3 separate regions of the Homo sapiens genome follow, and all the other regions are linked to region 1. The links come from fine-mapping of genetic effects on gene expression. A gene starts in region 1. Each other region holds a variant in brackets. All regions are shown on one strand. Distances are from middle to middle.

Region 1 (8,281 bases):
AATGCTAAGTGCATTATCTGTACAATCTCACAACACACTATTAGGCAGATACTTTTGTCTTGTCCATTTTAGAGATTAGGAAATTGGGACACATTTTGGAGATGATGTAACTTGCCTATGGCCACACAGCCAGGACCCCAGTCTTCGTTTGAGGCAGACCCTGAGCTCAGTTCACAATATAACCACTTTTCTTCCACAGCAAGATGATACCACCTTCCATTTTTTTCTTTCTTGCTGTGCTTCCTCTCCCTACAATCACCCTCTTCCTTTTCGGTTAACACATGTATGAAGTCCTCACCATGGAATGTGCATTGTTCAGATGACTAAGTTGAGCTCAAGGAGCCATAGTTTTTGTCAGGAGAAGGCTCACTGAAATATGTTCAAAGAAGAGTAAAGAAAGAGTGCAGGAAAAGATGGAGAAATGGGTGAAATGACTCAAGACACCCAGCCTTAAGGGAGACAGACTAAGAGTTATTCTTAAAGAAAAGGAAGAGCCTCAGGATTACAAAAATCATAGGTTGTGAAAACAGAAAACAATTCAGAGGTATCAGATCATCTTACAGATAGGAAACCTGAGATCTGAAGATGAATGGAGCCAGGACCTGACCTAAGATTTCTGACCACCTCTACCTTTCCTCCCTCTCTCAACCCCACTTCTGCCCCCAGTACCAGCACGTTCGTCAGACGTGGCTTAGGAAACTATCCAAGATGCTTGAAACCAGAAGTGTTTCTGACTTCAGATTTTTTTGGATTTTTGGAATATTTGCATTATACTTACCATTCAGCATTCCAAATCTGAAAATCCGAAATCAGAAACGTTCCAATAAATAATTCCTTTGAGCATCATGTCAGTGCTCAAAAAGTTTCAAATTTTGAAACATTTCAGAGTTCAGATTTTTGGATTTGGGAAGCTCAACACATGTACAACCAACGATGTAGTATGTGCCCTTGGAGATTTTTTTTTTTTTTTTTTTTTTTTGAGACTGAATCTTGCTCTGTCGCCCAGGCTGGAGTGCAGTGGCGCCATCTTGGCTCACTGCAAGCTCCACCTTCCGGGTTCACGCCATTCTCCTGCATCAGCCTCCCGAGTAGCTGGGACTACGGGCGCCCACCACCATGTCCGGCTAATTTTTGGTATTTTTAGTATAGATGGGATTTCACCGTGTTAGCCAGGATGGTCTCCATCTCCTGACCTCGTGATCCACCTGCCTCGGCCTCCCAAAGTGCTGGGATTACAGGCGTGAGCCACCGTGCCTGGCCTGCAGATTTTTTAAAATAAAAAAGTAAAATTAAAGAAATGTCTTCATCAGGATAAGGCATATATAACACTTTGTTCTCTTTTTCAAAAGTTTATGTTAATAATAAAATGACCATGAGCAGGGCCTTGAACAAGCTTCGCTCCCGGGAATTACTCACCATCTCCACCTGGTCCCTTCACTCAACACTCCCGGCAGTAATGTCTCTGCAAGGAACAAATATGGGTTAAAAATAAGGTCTGAAGAGCCTGCCCCCTCCTTGCCTAGGAAATCTGAACCCTCAGGCAATGCCATTCTTACAAAATGTGCTTTCTGATTACTTCCAGAAGGCAGGGCAGGCTGACCATGCAGTCTCCTGTGGTGAAGTGGCTAAAACAATTCTCTTCACCAAGGCCACTGAGTATCTGCACACCTCCAGTCCAACAAATCAGTGCCTGGTGGCTTTGGCTATTTCTAATACATGTGTTTCATTCCTGTGCCAAGGGCTCCTCCCTCCACCCTCACTGCCCAGTTTGTGTTGTGGCCATTCCTCTCCCTTCACTGCCTCCACCTCTGTCCTGGATTTCTTCCTCTGTATCCTTCCCCCTTCCGCTGCTTACTTTTTCTCTTCAGATGTCAAGAGAGCTTGACTTCTCCCTACTTTACTTCTAAAAAAGAGAGAAACTATAGAGTTTCTACCAAGTTTCAAGCACTGCTCTTTATAATCCTGCAACCTGGAGTTGCTATTTCACGCCTCTTCTGCTCAATGCTTGACGCACGCTAAATATAGAGGAGTATGACACCCGAGCTCATGGAAGGCTCCCTTTTTCATTGGCAGTGGGCTTGACTACGGTTCATGCCAGTTCCTAATCTGTCTTGGCATTTTTCTCACTCATTAGGCACTTTAGAGAAAAAAATAAGGTCACAGTCCATCCTGACTTCTAACTACACCCCCTTCCTTTCCTCAAGCCCTGCAGTCCCCAAACCCTCCCCACACCACCCCAACACGAAGATGAAACTAATAAAGAAAATGTTCATGAACCATCTCTTAAAGATATCCTGCTGCCAGTCCTGTCCCAGGTCCCTCCTCCAAGTACAACACTTGGAAGAAAAAAGAAAATCGCTGGCTGAAAATCCTGACCTTCTACCAACAGGACAGAATGTGTGCCTTCTCATTCTAGGTCTTATGCAGAGGAAGCAATGAGAAATGCTGGCTCTCCACTTTTCTTTCAGCATTAACTTCAGGCTCTTCTATTAGCTACTTGTTTAAAGATTGTAGGACACAAGTAAATGCACACCTGTTGTCACAGAGATCCACCCTAAGAGGTCTAGTCACTCTTCAGCTACTCAAGAAGTATCCAAGATTCCATTCATTCATCCATCTCCCCAACCAGACTTTTGGCCAAGCCCCGTTCGGAAAAAACCAATGTTGTCACAGATTGCTGTGCTAGTAATTGTAAAGCAGTTGTAAGGTTTAGCTCGGCTTTGGGCTGAACCAGTCTCTCAAATGCAATGACATTGTACTGTGTGTTTTCTAAATGCTGTACATAAAACAAGGTATAGCTTTCCTATGAGAGGAAAAAATCTATACTGCAATAGAGTTGATAAAGAAGAACCAAAACTGAAGAGGAACACTAAGATCCCTGTTGTGCTGAAAATTTTTAAAACTTTGATTTTTATAAAAAGCTCTTTTGCAGTAAGGTGTAAAATAAAACCAAGAGATCAATGAAATAAAATTCACACCATCATGTCTCTGTCCTTTAAGAAGAATTTTGAGTAAACTGCCATTTTCTGTTACTTTTTTATTATCTATGTTTCCTAAAATACAGAAGTGTTTTTTGAGAGTAAAACTGCAAATTACTTCAAGTGAGAAAATTGGAAATGATTATAGAAACAGAATTACAAATGTTGATCCAGCATAATTCTAGGCAAATATATCACTGACAGTCAAATCCCAGATAATGACAGTCAAACTCCTATATAAAAGATTTTAGAAACCCATACACACATATCTGTTTCGACACTCTGAAAGTGTCATCCAACGTAGAAACTTCAAACTCTGATTCCCTCCTAAAATGAGAGCCATTTTCTACTATTAAAAAACAACAACAACAAAAAACTCCCCATTAAAACTCTTGCGAAGTGAAGCAAAACACACAGACAGTTTCATCTGAAATTATCTTCCTTGCCAGTGAACGGCCCTTCCACGCAGAAAGGAAAAGTTACAGATGGTTGGAGCAGGGTGACAACATAAGGAATTCACATACTCCTCTTTACACAATAACGTTGCCAGCTAAATCCTAACTTTCAAAAGAAGTCTCTCTGCCCTGCTGAAAATCAGACCTTAAAGGGGGAAAAGCACAGATTGGAGCCCCATGCCAACTGTTTACATGACGGAGTTCTAACTTGCTAATTCACACACACACACATGCACACACTAAAAACTCGGAGTGCCTGCAAATACAGCAGGCAGATAGCTTAGAAAGTGAACAGACGCGTGCAAACGCAAGAACTGAACAGTACCCTACCTCTCTTGTCCGTTTCACAAACCGGCCGATGAAAACCGCCCGCGATCCCAGGGCGTGCTGAGCAGCTCTGAAGGAGGTGGCCACTCGGCCCGCTGAGTGTGTGCAGGCCCAGCCTGCGCTCAGAAGCTGCCCCAGTCAGATTTTCCAACTGCAGAACTGCAGCCAAGTCCCTGCCCATGCCTGAAGAATTTCCTGAACAGCATTCCCGTTCTTTTTCTGACTGCTTTGAAACCGTACTCCGTACTTCAATATGGCTTTGTCAGACCGACTCACAGCTACTGGGCTGTCTCCAGCTATCAATGGGAAACACATGTGTCAAGCACAGGCCGACTCCCCTGCAACAGCGCTCATGGTGTCTGCCGGGCTCATACTCACAACCAGAAAGAAAACTGCTTCTACAACCAATTCTGATTTTTCAGCCATTCTCCACACAGCCTCTGCTCTGTAGTGCTAGATGCTGGAGATAAGTCCTCTCTTTCTTCTGCTCAACACTGCTCCTTTTTCACTTGCTCCTTACACTTGAGTCCCCAGCTGACCCCTGTCAGCCCCCTGAGCTCTTGCCAGTCCTGATAACAAGCTTATTACAGCTGAGAGATGTAAATTCTAATTTGATCTCCCTACCTGCCGCTTCCTAAATCTTTGCTCAAAATTTCAATTGCTTGAGGGGGAGCAATATTTTTAGCATTTCCACACTGGTACAGTTCTTCGGAGCTGTCCCCTCAACCTGATATGTACATTTTTTGCTGCAGCAACTAAAAATAATGCAATTATTTTTCAGGCACTTTTGTTGCTCTCTGTTCTGCAACAGTGCTGGTCCAAAAATGTAACATTTTATAGGCTGTTGGAATGTGTGTTATGGTTATGGAAAATAGAAAAGAGAAAAGAATGTACTTTGAATCAGAATGCGTCCTAATTCTGTGCACCTGTGATTATTTCTGGATGACACTCCCTCAAGATGCCCTGTGTACATTCTGCTGGATTTGATGCTCTACCTTTGACATTTTCCCTTTCCATGCAACAAGAGGAAACCTCAAAACAGGAGGACACCCCTCTTCTCCCACACTGAAAAACCCCCATATCTAAAGAGCCAGAGCAAAGTTGTCAAGGTAACATTGTAGAAAAGAGGTGATTTAAAGAGAGAGGAGCATTTGTTTTGAACTGTTTCTTTTTTCTGTTTTTGGTATTAACATTTTACTTCCAAAAATCACACCCCATTGGCAACTTATTCTAAAGAACTGGCTTGCCAGATTTTAAGTGTTGTATGTTCTTGAGGGGATGTTGTAAGTAATAGGATTCGGTGGGGTCGTGAGTTTAGCATCAAATTACACTGGGCACTTTGAGCAGGATTAGATTTTCGCCTTGGGAAGCAGTGGGGTGGGAGGCGGTGTGGGGAGGTGTGTGTGCACATCTAAGGTCAAGATGCAATTACAGAATCAGATCTTTGGAGTTGGAGACACCCCAGAGATCATCCAATCCAAATTGTTTCCACCCTTCATTTTACAGAGGGAAGTAGAGGCCCAGACAAATGAGATGACTTGTCCAGGGTTTTAAAGACAGTTAATACCAGAGCTGAAGCTAGAAATGGGATTGGTGCTCTCTTTTTCTATCTGCTTTCTCTACTGCAGCATAATTTGGGAAGGTGATATCATCTAGCCTTCTAATCAGATAGCCTGGGTCTAATCTTAGCTCTGCATCTTACTGACTATAAACCCTGGTCAGCTTGCTTAACCTCTCTCGATCTGTTTCCTCATCTGTGAAATGGGAACCATAATAGAATCTACTGGTAGAATTGTTAAGGATTCAGTGAGATAATCTGTGTAAAGTGTTTATGACTGCCTATAAATACATTTCAGTTTACTTTTTTTTTTAATGGAGCAAAATGCAAACCTTTTCTCTAACCTAAAAGCCAAATTGTACTCTCCCATCTAGTGTGAGTTCTAGAATAAAGTATTTGAGTGGCTAGTTTTCTGCTGCTTTAACTTTATGTAATAGGGGCCTGTCACCTTAAACTTGGAGAACTGTCCTGAAGCCTTATTGGAACATTAAGCCAGCTATACCGCTACTTTCCATTTATTCCCTAAATATAACACTGAAGTCTTTCCTTGAGATTAACTCACAGAAAAGAAAAACAGTGAGATCAAATCTGCAGTCAGTTACATGAGGCTGAACAAAGTGTCATTCCAGAGAACTGGGCTTTATACCTTAAGAGCTCAAAATTATCATTCTATAAATAGAAGACTATTAACAATTACAATGTTCATGTTTGGAAATGGCAACGTCCTAAATTAACAATAATAGCAAAATAAAATCCCACAAGTTGAGGAAGAAATCTTTCAGAGAAAATAGCTGCTGCAAATTCTAAAGAATCAGACTTCTACGTGGGGTTCCACAGTCTTTGAGAGCCAGTGGTAGCAAATTGCTAATGAACCGCTTATTGTTTATTATTCACGTTTTATGCCCTGCTTCTTTTCAGGGAAAAAAAAAAAGAAGTTTTAAATAGTTGAAGAAGTTAATCTTGAATGTTCTGGTAATCAATTTAAAAAAAACTCAAGCTGATACTCAGCCCTAATCAAACAATGCTGATATGATTCACGAGACCCTGCCCTCATGTCTCCCCAAAGACTTGTTATGTGGCTCATTTCAATGTGGGCATCTGGAGAGATCTCAGTTTGAGACCCAGCTTTATAACTGCTAGCTAGAAAATCCTGAAAACATACTTAATTCTTCTAATGTTAAGAAATGTTATGCAAAACTTGAAAAATATAGCCAAAAGGTAGTCTTTTTTTTTTCAATATCATATGCGGGAATTGTTTCACAGGCCCTCTCAAGAAGTATTTAAGGGGAATGTCATTTGTTGAAGATAGTTTGCTATTGAAAAACATTTCCAGATTTATTACAGGTACATGTTAACTTGGAGACTTTTATCTGATAAAGATGCAAATAATTTCTTTCCAGTAGAGAAAATAACCTCAAATGTGATGATTTGTTGCCCTCCAGGACATTACCAGTCTTGTACCTAATGTAGTCTCTGCTAGCATCCCTTTGTTAACAAACCTATAAATAATGAGCTCCTCAAATGTTCTTGGAACCAGTCTTACCATCACACCAATTCCCCCACTAATTAAGGAGTCAAGTAAAATATCTGACATATCTGCTTTTCATATTTATATGTCATGTTTTTAACTTTTTAAAAAGTATAATTTGACAGTTTTATTCTTTCCACCTATATGAGTGTTATGAGGATTACGTGAAATAATGTGTGATAATCACTTAGCGAAATGCATGGCACACAGTAAATGCTCAAACTATGTAGGCACTGCTAGTATTTAATACGATAGGACTGTACTCGGTTCTCACTTTTGCAAAGGACTCCTCATCAGTCTCCTTCCTATTACACCTTTTTATTCTTACCATTAGATTCCTGAATCCCCTCTGCAATGGCTGTGCCTGCTGGAATCCTTCCATACATGGTGACCTCTTTGCTTCTCACAGACTTCCACTTTTAATGTTCTAAAATTACAACTAAAATATGTCTCCCTATCACATATTCTATGGTTGCTAATCACAGAAGTCGGTTAAAAATTATGATACTGAAGATCATATGAACCAGAAAACTTCAATCTTCACTTGAATATAAGCTCCATGCGGGCAAGGATTTTTGTCTACTTCATTTTCTGCCATTTTTCCAATGTCTAGGATGGGTATATAGTAGACCCTCATTTTTACCCATTGAATAAATAACATCTTTTGACTTACTTGAAAACTGAGATTCCTACATTATCCTTTTCAAAGGATATTTTTACTGTAGATTAAACATATCTGGAGCTACTCGACCATTTCTCTCCATCGTGTTTCAGATTCCCTTTGTCACCTGATTGGCTTTTTTCCTGGGAATATTTCAGTTTCCTTAATTTCCTCCTTGAGTGTGGTGCTGAGAAGTGAACAAACTTTGCAGGTACACTGGATCTAACGCAAAGAGAGGAGGAACAACTCCTTCTCTCATTCAGAAGCTATACTTCTATTGATGCAATCCATGAACATATTAGGTTTGGAGGTAGTAACCTGGAGTCATAGTGAGTCATGTCAGCTTGGACCACTCTATGACAGGTGCTAGTATTAACCTCATCTCCCACAACATTTATGTCGATGATGTTCAGGCCTAGATTTATATTAGAATCACCTGGGGTAGCTTTTAAGCTGACTAGAGCCAGGGTCCCACCCCAGAGGTTTTGATTCTATTAGAATCAGATGGCCACCAGGCAACAGTATTTTTTAATCCCCTCAGATGATTCCAATGTGAGCCAGACTTAAGATTACTAAGTTACAGGATCTTTTAAAACATAAATCTGATTGCACAACTCTTTGACCTCAAATCTTTAAATGGCTGACCATTGCCTAAAAGGGAACAGCAGCAACCCTCAACTGGTCTGTCACACACTTCTTTAGCCTCATCTGCTGCCACTCCCTCATTCTTCTAATCCTTCAAATAAATCATGTATCTTTCCACTTTAGGAGATT
Region 2 (8,000 bases), 160 kb before region 1:
TGGCAGGTGAGATGATGCTGTCCTCAGGCCTGCAATAGTGTATGCAGGCATTGACATCAGTGGGTGGGGCTGGGTGACCTTCTAGCTCATGGATAGTACAGATGGGCACTAGCAGGGGTGGTGATAGGCAGAGGAGATCCTCAGGTTTCAAAAGGACATCCAGCAGGGCCAGTCCCAAGACCCCTTGAAGGCATGTACAGGTGCACAACAGCTCTGCTACTGCAGGAGGCAGGGTTGTTATCAGTGGCACTGGCTTCAGGCAGTCAGTTCTGATGTTTTTGGAAGTGCCCACTTCAGTCTCCTTTGTCTCAGGGGCAGCCTTTCTGGCGTACCCTGCATTGCCTGTTTCCCAAGGAGTAGGGACATCATGTGTGATAGAGTTCTGAAGATCTAGATGCACCACTAGCTCCTCATGTCCACCCAGAAAACTGTGACACACAGGTTTCTGGGTGGACATGAAGGGATGGCAGTGGGGCTCCAGGAATGTGGAGATGCAGGGATTCTTGGGCCTCAGGGCAGGATATAGTCTGCTGAGAGCTGGGATCTCAAAATGGCATCATGCTACAGTTGCTTGGGTCTTTGGAGAGATGTGGGACCTAGTGTGGACTCCCTCTCTGGAACACTGCTGTTGCATGGTATCTCTCTATACTAGTTTCAGGACCTGCAAAACCTGAGGAGCTCTTCTGTAACTAGGATTGCAGGAGTCCCTGGTGGGAACATGAACTGCTGGGGATCTCTCACCTTTTCTCTGCACTGGGGAGTTTTTCCTGGCTCTGAACTGATCTCAGCTGGACTAGCTGCTTCACTTCTCTCTCCTTCCCTGCCTCAGAGCTCCAATATCACTTCCCTGCTGAGTTTCAGTGTTCTCACAAAGACGCTCCTTCAGTGTGGGATTATCTACCTGTTGCTTTGTCCTGTATTTTTTGTGGAGGAGGCAAATGCTGGGCATCTCCACACACAGCGATTTTTTTTTTATTTTTGAGATGGAGTCTTGCTCTGCCATCCAGGCTAGAGTGCAATGGCGTGATCACTGCAGCCTCCACCTCCTGAGTTCAAGCTACTCTCCAGCTTCGGCCTTCCCAGTAGCTGGGACTACAGGCGTGTACCACCACACCCAGCTAAATTTTTGTATTTTTAGTAGAGACAGGTTTCACCATGTTGGCCAGGCTGGGCTTGAACTCCTGATCTCAGGTGATCCACCTGCCTTGGCCTCCAAAAGTGCTAGGATTACAGGTGTGAGCCACCACGCATGGCCCACACAGCCATTTTGAAGGCCCCTCTAGCATTTCCTTTTTCCACCTTTATTAATGGCTCTCTCTATATACTTTGAGTATAAGGAAGAAATAGTTTTTTCCTACATTCTGTACAACTTGAGTATGTCAGAAAAATTAACAAGCAGGAAGCCTCCCTTATACTCAAAATGTGGAAGAAAGAGATACACAAAATGAGTGCATAGAATAAAACAGCCCTCAGTCCATGTCTAAAAGGTTTGGTGAGGGAGACCTCAAGTTAGCTGGAGAATGTCCTGAAGAGTACCTCTGTTTCTTAGGAATGTCAGACACATGCATTGCAGTAACAACTTCTTACACTTGTAAAAATCGTTATGAAAAAAAAAAAAGTTTGTTTCCAAAGGTTATATGGCAGATATTCCTCATTTACTTTACTGGCACTTTTCAATTTTGGCTCAAATCCTATTATTCAGGAGATATGAATTGGCCAGTGGGAACATTTCCAGCAACAATATTTTGGAATTAAAAACTAATTTAACCAAGATGACCCCTGGAAATTACCAGGCTCAGGTAGAAGGAAACACTGTGACATAAATGGCCATGTGTTATTCATTCCAAGGGGACCCGAGAAAAACTCTTCAATCATCTTTCATCATTTCAGCCACCTTTTTCATCACACCATATCTTCTAATGAGAAAGTCTTAAAAACTGTATATTGTAACCATGACTAATATATATGTGAGAATGAGACCAGGTACAGGAATACAAAAAAGCCATTTCCGAGTATCCGGATAAGAGGGGAATATGAACAGCTTGAAAAAATGTACAGTTTAACAAGCAATTATATAATTAAGATACTAGCTTAGGGAATAATTCAATACTTTCTTCCTTAACTTCGAATTTATAAATGTCTTTTACAGAGTATTGCAGTAGCAGCTTTAGCACTGAGAAGACCCATTCGTAAATGCCGGTTGTGCTCTTTATTACTTACATGACCTTGGGCAAGTCACTTGATACTTTTATCTGCAGTTTCCTCCTCTATAAAGTATTTAACAACATATTCAAGTCACCTAGTGTAGTACATGGCATGTTGTGTGTGCTCCATAAATGTTACTTCTCTTGCTTTATTTTAAAAATAGAGATGTGGCCTTCACATACTCTATCTTTTCAGGAAAAAGAAGGCCTTCTGTTAATGGTAGAGATTTCTGAGGCTAGGATTATTTCACGTTTCCCTTTTCTTTAATGACAATGTCGTTGACTGGAGTATGAGTTTTTTAGTGGATTCAGACAGAAGCCCACAGAGTAATTTCCCTTAGGTCTAGGCTTGACATGTGGGATTCACTGGAGTTTGTTTCTCTGTTTATTAGAAAGGGCCGGTTTCTGGGATGTCAATTTCAGACTAGCGGAAGTACTAACAGTTTCCTTCTGCTGCTGCAGATTAACCTTCAAATCCTGAAACCTTTAACATCAGGCTGCAAAAGCCATTCTACTAGGCAGCAGATTATTGCCTCTTTCATCTCGATTTAGCTCAGTGCACTTGCTCTGAGCACTGTCTCAAAGTTGGTAAGAATGTTAGCGGGAATGCCCCCAAACCAGGTATTTTTTAAAAACCTGGCCACAATGCCACATAGAGAAGTGAATCTCATTTTTAATGGATAAAGTAGTATTTGGCTCTTATTTTGAGGGTCATAAAAACACATTTTACTCACCATAGTCCATGTGCAAGGCACCAGGGTAGTTACCAAGGTGACTGCTCTCAAGAGAGAGATTAAGAAATGCAGAAGAAAAGAAATAATCCGAATGCACCCCATGGTTGACTCCACATACAAATGAAGTTGCCAAATGCCCAGGCCTCGCCTTCTGTTTGGTTATCGATGCACAAATGCAAAAATGAGGTAACATGAACGTGGGTGTGTAGCAGAAGTCAGTAAGCATTGACTGCAAGTATGCCCCTGTGTACTGTGTCAGCTGCAATTTGTATCAATTCTCTCCCCTCAACCTTGGGGTGACTCCCTTCTCCCTCACAGTCAGACATCTGAGATTCTTTGCCTTCTAAAAATGTCTCAGTCTGACACCTGTTAAATATTGAACATGCACCTAAGCAAAGGAAAGATTTCATCTAAGGCAAGTGCTTGATCATGGGGGCTAGGAGGCAAAGTGAGAAGAATACAACTCCACCTCAGCCACATTGACCTTCTTACTGGTCCTCTGAACACACTAAATGGATCCAGCCTCAGAACCTTTGTATCTGCTACTCCCTCTGCCCAGAAGGCTCTTCTCCAGGCTCTCTGCACAGCTGGCTCCTTCACTTAACTCAGGTCTTTGCTCAAATACCATTCATGAGGCCTAGATGAGGCAAGAATGTCTGGAAACATTTTTAGTTGTCACAAGGGGGAGTGGGGGAACAAACAGCATCTGGTGGCTAGAGGCTGAGGTTGCTGCTGAATATACTATGATACACAGGACTGTCCTGTGCAACAAAGAATTCTCCAGTCCAAAATGTCAAAAGTCCCATGGTTGAGAAACCCCACCCTAAACAATTCAAATATGGCTAGTCTCAGCTTACTTAAAAAAAAAAAAAAAAAAAAAAAAACTGACCAAAAGGATAATACTACCTGCTCTAACTCATTATCTTGTAGGGAGGATAGAAATTGATAATGTTCACATAAGTGTCTTGAAAAGTGTTTTATAAATGTTATTTTTCTTTTTAGCTCTTGATACTTCTTCAGATCATACAAGTAGGCTTAAAAGGCATTTATCATCTTACTCATTTACAATGGAATTATGATACTTTGACTTTAAAGAGGATCATTTTTCTAAAGAGAACATAGAGCTTCTTATCTATCAAAGCCTAGTTAGCAACCATTACTGTCCCTATTTTTGAGATTTAAAAAAATGGCAGAAGAAACATATGACCCTTTCTTCAAGGAGAAAAAAACGAAGTTATAGTTATTTCATTCATTGATTCAATGATTATTATGGAATGCTAATATGTGTAAAACACTAACAACAAAGTGAAACAATATTACCCTTCCTATATAATAGATAATGAGCTGAGTGTTCCTGTGTGTGGCTGGTGGCTACCATATCGGACAGTGGAGATTTAAGCATCTTCTATATGTTAGCAGTTTTTTTTTTTCAGGATTTCAATTTTTGAAAACTTCCAGCACGAACTGAAATCATAGTGATCTTTCAGGCTGCAATGACCTTGCAAAACTTGCTTTACCCCATAGCACTAGAATCCAACACCTAATCCCTTGGGTTCCGCCTTGGCTCAAATGCTGATATTTCAGTCTCAGCAACTGCTTTGCTTTCCTCAACATCTCATTAAATACCTGACATTCGGACTGTGACACCCAGGCACAGATGTGGGAAAGGAGCAAGTTTCTGTTTGAGGGGACTGGGACCAGACTGCCTGGTCTGTGGGTCCCGCTGATTCCTGAGTCACTGTCTACAGTTGTCCCTGAACGTGGCATAAGCAGGTGGTGTCTGATCA[G/A]TCAGGATTAATGATGCAAAAGGAAGCTGGCACCTCTTCAAAGACTTGCTCACAGAGGCCACAGGGAGTAGAGAAAGCAAATCCTTGGCCCTGGGTTCCGACCCTGATCCTGGGTTCTGTGTCCAGGTGTGCTCCTTGACCTCAGATGTTTCCATGAAACAGGCTTCTGTTAGTCTCCTTTCATAACTCACCCTAGTAAGGGATCTGAAACTCACAGTAGAAACATTTCTTCTTCTTCCCTAAAATCCTGTGGGGGCAGGTACTATTATTATCTCCCTCTTCTGATAGATGCAGATAAGAAAACCCCAGGGTCATGTAGATCAAGAGACATATAATAACAGATGTTTCAAATTAGGCACCCACGGGCTATTTTGGGCTGGCAGATGTAGTTTTTTTGGATCCACAAAGTGTATTCAATAAAAAATAAAGGAAAGCAAAAACTAAGACACTTAGATTATGAGTTTCTCTTGAAAAGTCATAAGATTTAGCAAGAAGGCCCAAATTCACACATTATTACAACTGGCTGAGCAGCCACTCACCTTTCCACAGGGTCAGGGACATCAAGTCCAAAATATCAATGACACAGACCCCTACCATCTCCCAGCCTTCCCCAATAACATAGACCTCTACCATCCCCCAACTTTCCCCAGGGCCTTTTTATCTACTTGTCACTAGCCAGTCCTTGTAGGTTTTTGAGTTTGTGGCCCTAGCTTAATGCATACCAATATTCTAGGTGAGATAATACTTACTTTTGTTATGGACCTTCTTTGTGCTTTTATACCGTATTAATTATACCAATCTTTACCCCAACATTATGGAGTCATACTATTACTGTGCTCTTGATTTGTCAGATGACAAAAACCAATGCCCTGAGAAATTCAGAAATATGTTCAAAACTGTGATAATGTAAAACGATTAGTGGATGGGTTGGAACTCGCTCCTGGAATCATCTTTCCATTACTTTATAGCACTCCTCCCACCAAATTCTCAGATATATTGTGACCTTTTACATAGTATTCTGTAGTTGTGGCCTTTGAAGGCAATAAGAGTGTTAATGCCTAATGGACATCTTAAGACCCATTGAGCACGTTCCTTAATCACCTAAGATTTAGCTTTTAGAGTTTTCTAGAGAAATTAAAAAAGAACAATTGATTTTCAGTAGTGGCAATTGCAAAGTAGGTAAAGCACCCAGCATTATCTCCAGAAGAGAGCAGGGTTTCAGAAAAACATTAATTCATTCCCCCACAAATCTAGTTAGCTAAAGAAGTTATTAGAACACTTACTATAACGGCCCATGTGCCATCTGGGGTAGCAGCCATGCAGTATGACTCTACCACCAGTGTCAAGGAAAGATCCCAGCTAAAAGCCATCAAGGTCATCTGATTTCCTTTGCACAGTGGCTGGTTCAGGTTGGGCATGTGAAATAAGTTGGTTTAATTAGAGTGAAGCCCAGGGTTTTTATTCAAGAAGAGACTGGGGAAAGACAAGCTCTATCATACTGTAGATATGTGGTATGCCAATGTAATGCCTGGAGCAGCTGCTGCCATTTTGCTATCATGAGTGAAAGCATTTGAGAAGAATCCAACGAAACAGAGCAATACAACTGAGGGAACTTCAGATGAATGGAATCAAAACTCCAATCAAAGCATCACTTCCTCTGAACTCTTCCATTACTTACCAGTCCATTACAGTCTGTCTAATCAAGGCAGAGCTGTTAGGTAGAGTTGAACATACTCATACAGGTAAGTTCAGAGAAATGACAGTCAGACAACCCTCAAGACCAAGGGAACATGCTCACTGGCACATTTCCCTACTGACTACTCAGAGTGTTTGTGACAGCAACTTGCCTTGCTGTTGCATCAGCCATCCCAGTCAGATGGTGAAGAAATGTAAGCCAAGACAGCTGGAGGGCTGATCTTCCACCCACAGGGGCTCCTCCCAGGGCAAGACAGCAGCTGTTGGTGTCTGCTTTGGTTTGAAATTGTAGCAACTGCATATATTCAGGTCAAAGCGGGTAACTTCTTTATGGAAAGTGTTGGAAGAACCAAGAGAGCAGATTCTGAAACTCGCTGTATCAGTCAGTAACCTGTGAATGGGTGATTTGTGTCAACAATGCCTTCTACCTCCTCTCTAAGAACAAAATTAAAGAAAGAAAGAAGAGGAAAGAAATCACTCCAAGACTTTTAGGAAAGCCAGGCCTGTTTCCTAAGTGCATTTGTATCTTCTTTCTTCTACTCTTCATTGTACTGGAACAAAAGGACAAATGCAGGGATTCTTGGAGTTGTGAGCATAGGTAAGATGCCACAGGGGTAGGAGCAAAATGGGTGAATACTCCCTAGGTCTTAGTGCTTTAAAGTCTAAGACAGGGGTCCCAAACTCAAATGCCTACAGAGGTTGGGCCCATGAGCTTAATGACTGAAGTGGGCACCCACATGGAAACTCAGAGAGAACAGACCCTGACAGGGCAGAGTTTCTCAGCTCCAGTTAAATATCTTTGATAAGAATCTTGAAATCTGGCCAGGTGTGGTGGCTCACACCTGTAATCCCAGCACTTTGGGAGGCCGAGGCGGCTGGATCACTTGAGGTCAGGAGTTCAAGACCAGCCTGGCCAACATGTTGAAACCCCGTCTCTACTAAAAGTACAAAAAAAATTAGCCAGACATGGTGGTGCGTGCCTGTAGTCGCAGCTACTCAGGAGGCTGAGGCAGGAGAATCGCTTGAACCTGGGAGGTGGAGGTTGCAGTGAGCCGAGATCATGTCACTGCACTCCAGCCTAGGTGACATAGCCAGACTGTCTCAGGAAAAAAATAAAAATAAATAAAGAATCTTGAATTATATTTTTTAATCTAAAAGTGTCTTAATGTTAAATTTTTGTATGTATACATATATCCCCTCCCAACACTGACAAGATCAAATAAAACATGAGAGTGGGCCGATTTGGCTCTCAGGTGAAAGACAATCAGAGGAGCTGGCTGAATTACCAGAAAGGACTAAGAGGTAGTAGGGTTTGGCTTCTAAAAATGGCAACTGAGCTGGGCACAGTGGCTCAGCCCTATAATCCCAGCACTTTGGGAGGCCAAGGTGAGTGGATCATCTGAGGTTGGGAGTTCGAGACCAACCTGGCCAACATGGCAAAACCCCGTCTCTACTAAAAATACAAAAATTAGCTAGGCGTAGCGGCTCACACCTGTAATCCCAGCCACTCAGGAGGCTGAGGCAGGAGAATTGCTTGAAACCATGAGGCGGAGGTTGCAGTGAGCTGAGATTGCACCATT
Region 3 (8,281 bases), 290 kb after region 1:
TTGATGGATGAATGATAAATGAATAACTTCAATCCTGTTGAAAATCAATTAAAAAACTCGATCTCTACTTTAGGCAGAACATTCTTCCTTCAGGCCCTCCTCTCCACCATCTCTCTTCTGATATTTCTACCCTTCCCTACTAAATAACAGTGTCTGCCTTTCGGAAGTATCGGAAAAAAATTTCTACCTGTGCTCCTATCCTTCCTCATTCTTCCATGCGCAAATGAGGAGAATGGGATAATCTTCCCAGTAAGGAAGGAACTGGACCGAAGTACAAGGCAATCAACCCATTCTGGGGCTCAGCACGCTAGACTGTGGATAAGTCAACCTGATTCAGAGGTGCTGTTGGCCTAGGCCATCTTTATTAGCTCAGCTTATCTGTGAGGCCTGTGTTGACTTTTCAATTGGTTTATAACTTACAGAGGGAAAAAGGGTATGATGTGCCTCCAGATACACATCTGATTATGCTTTTATAAGTCCTGACATTGAGCTGATGCTGGGAAGGATACTGGAAAAAAACACTATTTCAAATCTACTTCAGAAGGAAACACAGAACATCACAGTTTATGCCTCAGAACAATAACAGAAAAATCCCAAGAAGTTTACTTTTTTTGAATTGAGATTCTAAATCTGATGATGTTTTATTAATAGGCTACTATAAAATCAAAATGGGCCTTCAGCCAGTACATTCCTAAATTAGAGGCTTACACATCACTGGGCCAAGCTCCATCAGGATGGCACTAGATTCAGTAGAGGATTTTCAAAGCCCTAAAATAATCTGATGTAAGACTTAATATTAGATGCCCCATTATAAGAGATAATGAAAAATGTTATCTAAGTGGAAATGAAGGCATGCATCTGCCCACACTCATGGGAGGGTCACCAACAGCTGGATGAGAGATCCTGCACACTACACCACACCACCTAGGCCTATGAATTCATTTGCTCTGACAGCAAATGCAGAAGAGTGGAAAGTGGTGGCTTTTCACACTCACCGATTTTAATTCAACAAGGATCTAATCAGTTTCTACTTGGTATGCAGTGTGCTAGTAGTGCTGGCTGCCCTAAAGCATAAAAACACGTGTCATCTGGCTTGTTGTGTACTCCACAATGGTATTTTTGAGTTCCTCTACTGGATAATTATAATCAGGGACAGATCCACATTTTGTGGGGCTAGAAGCTTACACAATTTGTGGGATGCTCTTTAAGAAAGAGAATATAAAATTATAAACACAAAATATAGTGGACATTCTTGAAAGGGGCTCCCGCTTGTCGGAGACGCCAAGGCTTAAGCTTCATCAGTAAATCCTTCTCTGGCTGTAGCACAGTAGTGCTACATACAATTCCCATAAAATTATCTAGCAAATGGTCTGCTTAATGTAAAAGGAATATGCAAGGGGTGAAGCACCAATGATGATGGTGATGACGATAATGATTATATTTATACAGCGCTTACCTCTGTATCACTTCATGCTTTTGCCATTGGTCAGTATAAACCTATGTCAGAAGCTGGATGACAGCTCTTTGCTAATCTCCATTGTCTTGGAGCTCCACTTTTAGCTACTCTCTCCCACATAAAACTCCTTGTGTGGAACCTGCTGCTCCTACAAATGGCCTGACACTCACTGTAACTTATCTTCACAGTGCACCATTCAGAAGAATTTGAAGAGACTGCACATCAATCTCTTTCATTTCTAGAGCAGTTTAGAGGATTTTTTTTCTTTTATATAGGAGTCATGACAAGAGCCAACTGAAGCTTTTCTGCAAATACATCTCCCACGATATGTTACTTCTCTTTCTCTTTCACGATGCTGAAACAGAAAAAGGAAACTACTCTCTCCGTAGTAAAAGGAGCTTCATTGGATACCCTGCAAGGTATAAAAGCTGAAATGAGAAATGAGAAAACATACAATTCTTTAAGTCTAGGTAAGTTAGATTTCCAAGTGTTGCTTTTCCTTAACTGCTCAGTTGATGTTCAGACAAATGTTTCAATTGTCTAGTTTTCAGTTTATTATTTTATTCAACAGATAGTTTAAATATCTACCATGTGCCTGTACTTTATTAGACCCTAGCAATCCAGCCATAAATTTGTGAGAAAGAGCACATGCTTAGATACCATCATGCAAAAACAAAACCTCCCAAGGAGCTTGCTCCTTTCCTTGTCAATGGAGGATGTTGCCTTTAATTTTGATTCAGGATGCTGAGGGGTCTGGGTGGGGGCATACAGAGATAAAAATAGCAAACAGCATTTGAAATTTTCTTTAAAAATTGAAAATCAATATTGTCAGTTAGAAATGCATATATTAATAGTATGCTGTAGAAGGTAAAAAATGAACATGCAGAACTAAGTGTGCTGGCTGATTCACTAGAGAGGCATAGGGTATGACAGGAGCAAAAACTAAATGGTCTTATTGGTTCTTAGGGCTAGGTGGTGGAGTGGGCCATAAAGGAGGGCTTCTTAAAGGAAGTTGACTTAGGATAGAACCCAAATGTCTTTACGTATATGGGGACTGGGATGCTACCTTGATAAAAAGCTCCTGAGGCAGGAAAGGGCTATTTCTGTTTCTAGGGGGAAGATGAGGATGTCTGAATTGAAGAGCGAGCAAGCAGGTGGCCCTGGTGACATGGTCAGAGGCCAAACTGAGCAGGGTTTTGTAGGCCCTGCTAAGGATTTTGCCTTTTACCTAATATATACCACTTTGCATATTTGTAAAAACAATGTTAGACAGGAAAAAAATTAAAACAGCCTCAATGTGTGGTATGGGAGAAAGAGCCCTTTGTAGGTTCTTCTGCGCCTTTTCTAGAAACACAGTGCAAAGATCCCCAAGGAAGAAAGGCTGTTTATCCCCATATTCCCCATCTAACAAAGTAAGGAACAAAGTAAGGCTTTATGTAGCCATGTTGCCTCTGTAAATTTTGCTTTCTTGACTCGTAAAGAGAAAGCTTTGGTCATTTTGTGTGTGTGTGTGTGGGAGCCATTTTTTTTTTTACTTTTTATTTTGAAATAATTTTAGATTTGCAGGAAAGTTGCAAATACAGTACAGAGTTCCTGTATGTATCACATCCTAATAATTTTCCCTAAGATCAACATCTTATATAGCCATGGTGCATTCATGAAAGATGAGAAATTAACATTGGCATAATACTATTCACTACATTATAGACTTTTTTTCAGATGTCATTGATTTTTTTTCTGTTCCAGGACCTACTTTATGCTATCCCATTGCAATTAGTTGTCAGGTCTCCTTAGTCTCCCTCAATCTATGACAGTCTCTTCATCTTTCCCTGTCTTTCATGACCTTGATACTTTTGAAAAGTACTGGTGAGGTATTTTGTAGAATGTCTCCCTGCCTTAGGATCTATCTAATGCTTTCTCATGATTGGCTGAGGATATGAATTTCAGGGAAGGATGCCTTCTCATTGGCCTAATGATTTGAAGTTCTCTAACAGCTCTGGGTGTTATAAGAAAGGTAATTTCCCTGGTCTCTATCCCCATCTTCACTCTACCAGATCCAGAATAATCCACATATCAGATATGAAAGAAGTTTAAGATAGGACAGTTACGGGAAGGCTTGTGTACTATCTAGTTTTCTTTTTAGGGGGCTCATTAACCTTTGACTCTCCTCAAACTTTATTTGTTCTATTCATTGCCTGCATTTTTGCCTTCTCCCTGCACCCTGTAGCTACTACAGATGCAATATATTATATTGACATGATAAGTATTATGTTTCTTCAAAGAGCTTTTTTAGCATGATTACTTTTGGTCTTTAATAACCCCAGGGAATTTCTTTCTAGATAGCCTAGTCTGTCTACATTGGCAGGGAATTAACACGTGCAAGACCTGTGTCTGCAAATTTTCCAGACCTCACTGTTTGTTCTTTAAAAAGACAATGACTCATTCCCAATTATCTTTTATCTTGTAGACAGAGCCATCTTCCTGAATTTAAATCACAGCCATCAACAAGCTACCTAATCTATGAGTGGAATCTTTAAAGATGGAACACAACAGATGCAAGATGTTTTATGTGTCCTAAATAAGTTTGTGTAGGTAACTTTCATTTTAGGTCAATTTGACAGGCCAAATTGCCTGCTTACAGAGTTTAGGGAATTAGGACCTGAGAACTGTGCAGGTGCCATCAGGGGAATGCAAAGATGTGAAGAAATGCCTGGGACTGGGGAAAACATTGAGGAGAAAATGACTGCAGCTGCACTGTTTTATCAGCTCCATCACACTTGCTGTCACTGCCTTGAACACACAGTGTTCCCTTCTGCCTCAGGGCCTTTGCACATGCCACTCCTGCTGCTCAGATGGCTCCTTGTCCCCAGCTTCTTTTGCCTCTCTCAGGGAAGCTTTCACCCACCTCCCAGAATAGATCTGGTCCTCCGTCATCTACTTTTACAATTCCACATGTTTTTCCATCATAGCAAGTAATAAAATTTGTAATTACATGTCTGTGTTGTAATTGAATAAAAATAATGTCACCTAAAAATTACTGAGCACTCTTTATGTGTGCCAAGCACTACAACTCTCATTCAGTCTTCAAAACAAAACCATGGGGACACTGAGACACAATCTGATCAATTTCCAGCTCTCCAGTAAACTGTAAGTGGCATGAGGAGAGGTTCTGCATGTCTGTTTTGCTCTACCCTGAATCACTAGTGCTTGGCAAAGAGCTTGGCAGGAAAAAGCT[T/C]GGTCTATATTTATTAAACAAATAACTGCAGCATGACATAGAAGGAGAAACATGTGCTCTGGGGTGAAGCATATTTGGTTCCAAATCTTAACACAGAGTATGAGCCACTCTTAGGAACCTACCAGGCCCCACCAAGTATGGAAATAAAGGAAAATTTGAGTCTCTCCAAGGGAAATTCCAGGCACCTAGCTAGCCCTGTTACCAGCAATTGAGGAAGGGAATAAATAACCCATGAAGCAAGAAAGTAAAAAAAGCTTAAATAACAGTAACCCAAGTAAGTTAGAGTCTCAAGATGTTTTGTTCTCTAAAGAAACCAAAGGTAGCATCTTAACGTATGTCTCTGAGTTGTCTTTCAGAAACCTCGGCCCTCATCAGATGGAAAATGCCTAGTGCTTTCCCATAGACCTTAGATAAGGGGAAAATGAGGACTGAGATCTGACTGTCATTCTTTGCTTTAAATTTCTTCCTGAGGAGCCTGGATAGAGTCATGCTTACAGGACAGACCTGAACATTTCTTTCTGCTGATGATTTTGCCTGAAACTTCTGCTTTCCTGAAATGTACCCCTGCCTTTAAAAACTCTGCTTGTAAGCCACTGAGGAGTTTGGATCTTAAGTGTTAGCCACCTGATTCTCCTTGCTTGGCACCTGCTGTACAAGTCTCTATGACCTCTCACTGCAAATTTTGGTGACAGTGTTGGCTTTTTCAGCCCACCAGGCAAGCAGACTCAAGTTTTATTTAGTGACAATCTCAATTCTGTGATTAGCTAGCTCTGTAAATTATAACAGCTTATTTAGCTTCCCTAAGCCCTGGTCTATCTGAGATCATGAAACCTCATCACAAAAGCCTTTAAAGGATTTAGATGAGATAATATAGGTGAAAGCACATTCTTGTGTCCAGCATGTATATAACTATAAAGCTGTGATATAACTAACAGCTTCCCTATTAAAAAATATTTCTTAGAGTTATAACAGTTCTGCAATTTTTCTTGTGATGGTATCACTATTCCTAAACACCATTTTGATACTTTGCTCACCAAAATGCTACGCTTCAAGATTATCACTTTGTGTTCCTTCTCTGATCTTATTCCAAGAATGAAGATGGGTTAAATATAATTCACAGAAACACGTCTAATGGAAGTTAACAGGAAGTAGTCACTTTACAATCCATTTTATTGGATTATAGAAAGGCAAATTACATTTCTCCTCTGCCATTAGAGAACCACCTAAATAGCCACCCCATTCTACTCTTGTTTTTATTATTATTTTTTATTTTTTTGAGACAGGGTCTCCCTCTATTGAACTCCAAGCTGGAGTTCAGTGGCACAATCATGGCTCACTGTAGCCTCAAACATCTATGTTCAAGTGATTCTCCCACCTTAGCCTCCTGAGTAACTGCAAATATAGGCATGTGCCACCATACCTGGCTAATGTTTTTATTTTTCTTTTGTAGAGACAGGGTTTCGCTACGTTGCCCATGCTAGTATTGAACACTTGGCCTCAAGTGATCCTCCCGCCACAGCCTCCAAAGTGCTGGTTAAAGGCATGAGCCACCATGACTGGCCCTATTCCACTTTTCAGGCAGACAAAATTACTGTTTTAACCACTCTGTTAAGGCTTTGGCAGCAGGTTAAAGTTGCACGAGTAGATGGTAGAATTCAATCCCAAACTTTAAAATGCACAAGACAAAAGGGAATAATATTAGCATTTCAAAGTAGAAAAACAAACAGACTCACCGAGGAAAACTTTAAGAAACACCTTAGGATTAAATTCCTTTGAAGAGCCTTGATTCCTGAAATAACAGAATGGTTATCTAATGGTATCCATTATGTCTCACTAATTGCCTTATGAAACTTACACTGGAAACATGTAGAAGGTATTTATGTATTATAAAAATTGCCAAAAAGTATGATATTAGAAGGTGTTCACAAAAAGAAAATAACAAAACTTGCTTACATTTATTAAGCACTTACAATATGCTAAGCTCTGAACTACACATTTTAACTAAAGTAGTTTTCATTGGATCCTATGACACATTTATCCAACAAATATTGACTAAGTGCTTACTATGCATGAGGCACTGTACTTACAGCAAGACAAACATAGTTCCTGCTTGCATGAAGGATGAAATCTAGTGGGTGAGACACATCTTGAACAGTTTCTTAATGTTTATTGCATAATTTCACATGACCAACTGATTCTGACTTGCCTTGAACTTTCCTGGTTTTTATACTGGAAATTTCACATCCTGAGAATAACTTTCTCAGTACTGGGGGAAGGAGAATAACTGGTCACTTAGCAAAATCACACAAGACACAATTGATTATAGTAAGTGCTATTACAAAGAAGTACAGAGTTATATGAACTACGGATGGTTAGCCCTCTTTTACAGATGAAGATAACAAGGTTTAGGAAAGCTAAATGGCCACATTCATATGTGGGAAAGGAAAGCTTTGAAGCTTCATTGTTCTGGCACCTAATTACATGACCTGATTTCATGTAATGATGATAATATATCTTCTGGTACTTTATACTTCAGAGTCCAAATCTAGACTCGCACTAATTAATGAAATGTTTTCAAAAGGTTTGGTGGAGGAAGGTTCATCAGAACAAGGAAAGACAGAATTCAGAGCAAATCCCTTGGATCTGGATCCTAAATGCAGCTCCATCACTGCTGGAAACACCTGCATATCTTTCAGCTGTGGGTGGCTCATGTGAAAACGAAAGAAAGCATTTTTCTGCTTGACTGGAGTCTTTTGCAGGAGACAAAAAGTGTTTCTTCAAGTGTGAGGAGTGGGGTAGGAGAGAGGGACTATTAAAAATTGGCAGGGCATACCTAAATACCTCTGGGCAGTGGATGAAAAATATCCCTGGAGGGTATTACAGCAGTTCATTTTGGTTAGCAAGACACAGTTTTCCCTTGGTAGAAAGTTGGTGAGGAAAAGATTGTGTCTTGCATTGAACAGTTTGATTTGGCTGGCATCTTTGATATAAAAAATTAAGTGCAAAAATGGGCAATGTGAGCCAGTAAAAAGAGGTTCAGAGTAACCCCCATCATATGCTCACTCCAATGATGGCAGGGTCTTTGGTCTATTTTGGTCACTGCTGTATTCCCTGCACACAGAAAAGGACATTCATTGCACATAGTATGCCCTCCCTAATATTTGTTGAATGGTTGAGGGCGCAAACAATAGTCTTAGTTTCTAATTTGCAAATGTGAGAAAGCTACTTTACCTCCCTGGGCCTTGGCTTTCACCTCCATTAAAGAGGAGAGTTTAACTGGATGACTTTTATTACTTCCAACAAATTCAAATTCAAGGTCTACACTTCAGGTTAAGAATTCATCCATGGATTCTTATTTCACTTACCCTCAGTGAGATAACTCAGAAACAGAAAGTCAAATACTGCATGTTCTCACTTACAAGTGGGGACAAAACAGTGGGTACACACGGACATATAGAAGGAAACAATAGACACTGGGGACGCCAAAAGGAGAGAGGGTGGGAGGAGGGTGAGGGTTAAAAAATTACCTATTAAGTATAGTGTTCACTATTTGGGTGACGGGTACACTAGAAGCACAAACCTTACTATTA

Alleles and levels. Positions count from the first base shown, and alleles are read on the strand shown. Sizes are in standard deviations (SD) of each study's normalised expression. Not every link is listed here.
For the expression in adrenal gland of the gene that starts at base 3,832 in region 1, allele G in region 2 goes with a higher level than allele A (moderate effect, 0.62 SD a copy in GTEx).

Evidence for each region. PIP is the estimated chance that this variant, and not a neighbour inherited with it, causes the effect.
Region 2: its variant is fine-mapped to the expression of SGCD in adrenal gland (GTEx, PIP above 0.99).
Region 3: its variant is fine-mapped to the expression of SGCD in aorta (GTEx, PIP above 0.99).

Annotation. Positions count from the first base shown.
Region 1 is chr5:156,322,715-156,330,995 of GRCh38, reverse strand. It overlaps SGCD (sarcoglycan delta), which reads right to left and starts at 3,832. Exons shown (of 9, transcript NM_000337.6): 1 at 3,764-3,832; 2 at 1,417-1,462. The coding sequence starts at 1,419. The region is part of intron 2 of LOC124901120 (a long non-coding RNA gene); the gene reads left to right.
Region 2 is chr5:156,478,636-156,486,635 of GRCh38, reverse strand. All of the region lies in intron 3 of SGCD (sarcoglycan delta), which reads right to left. Among named protein-coding and RNA genes, the nearest start is that of SGCD, 160 kb to the right of the region's middle. The variant G/A (reference allele first, on the strand shown) is at 4,726.
Region 3 is chr5:156,033,299-156,041,579 of GRCh38, reverse strand. It overlaps a transcript of SGCD not described here. Among named protein-coding and RNA genes, the nearest start is that of SGCD, 290 kb to the left of the region's middle. The variant T/C (reference allele first, on the strand shown) is at 4,692.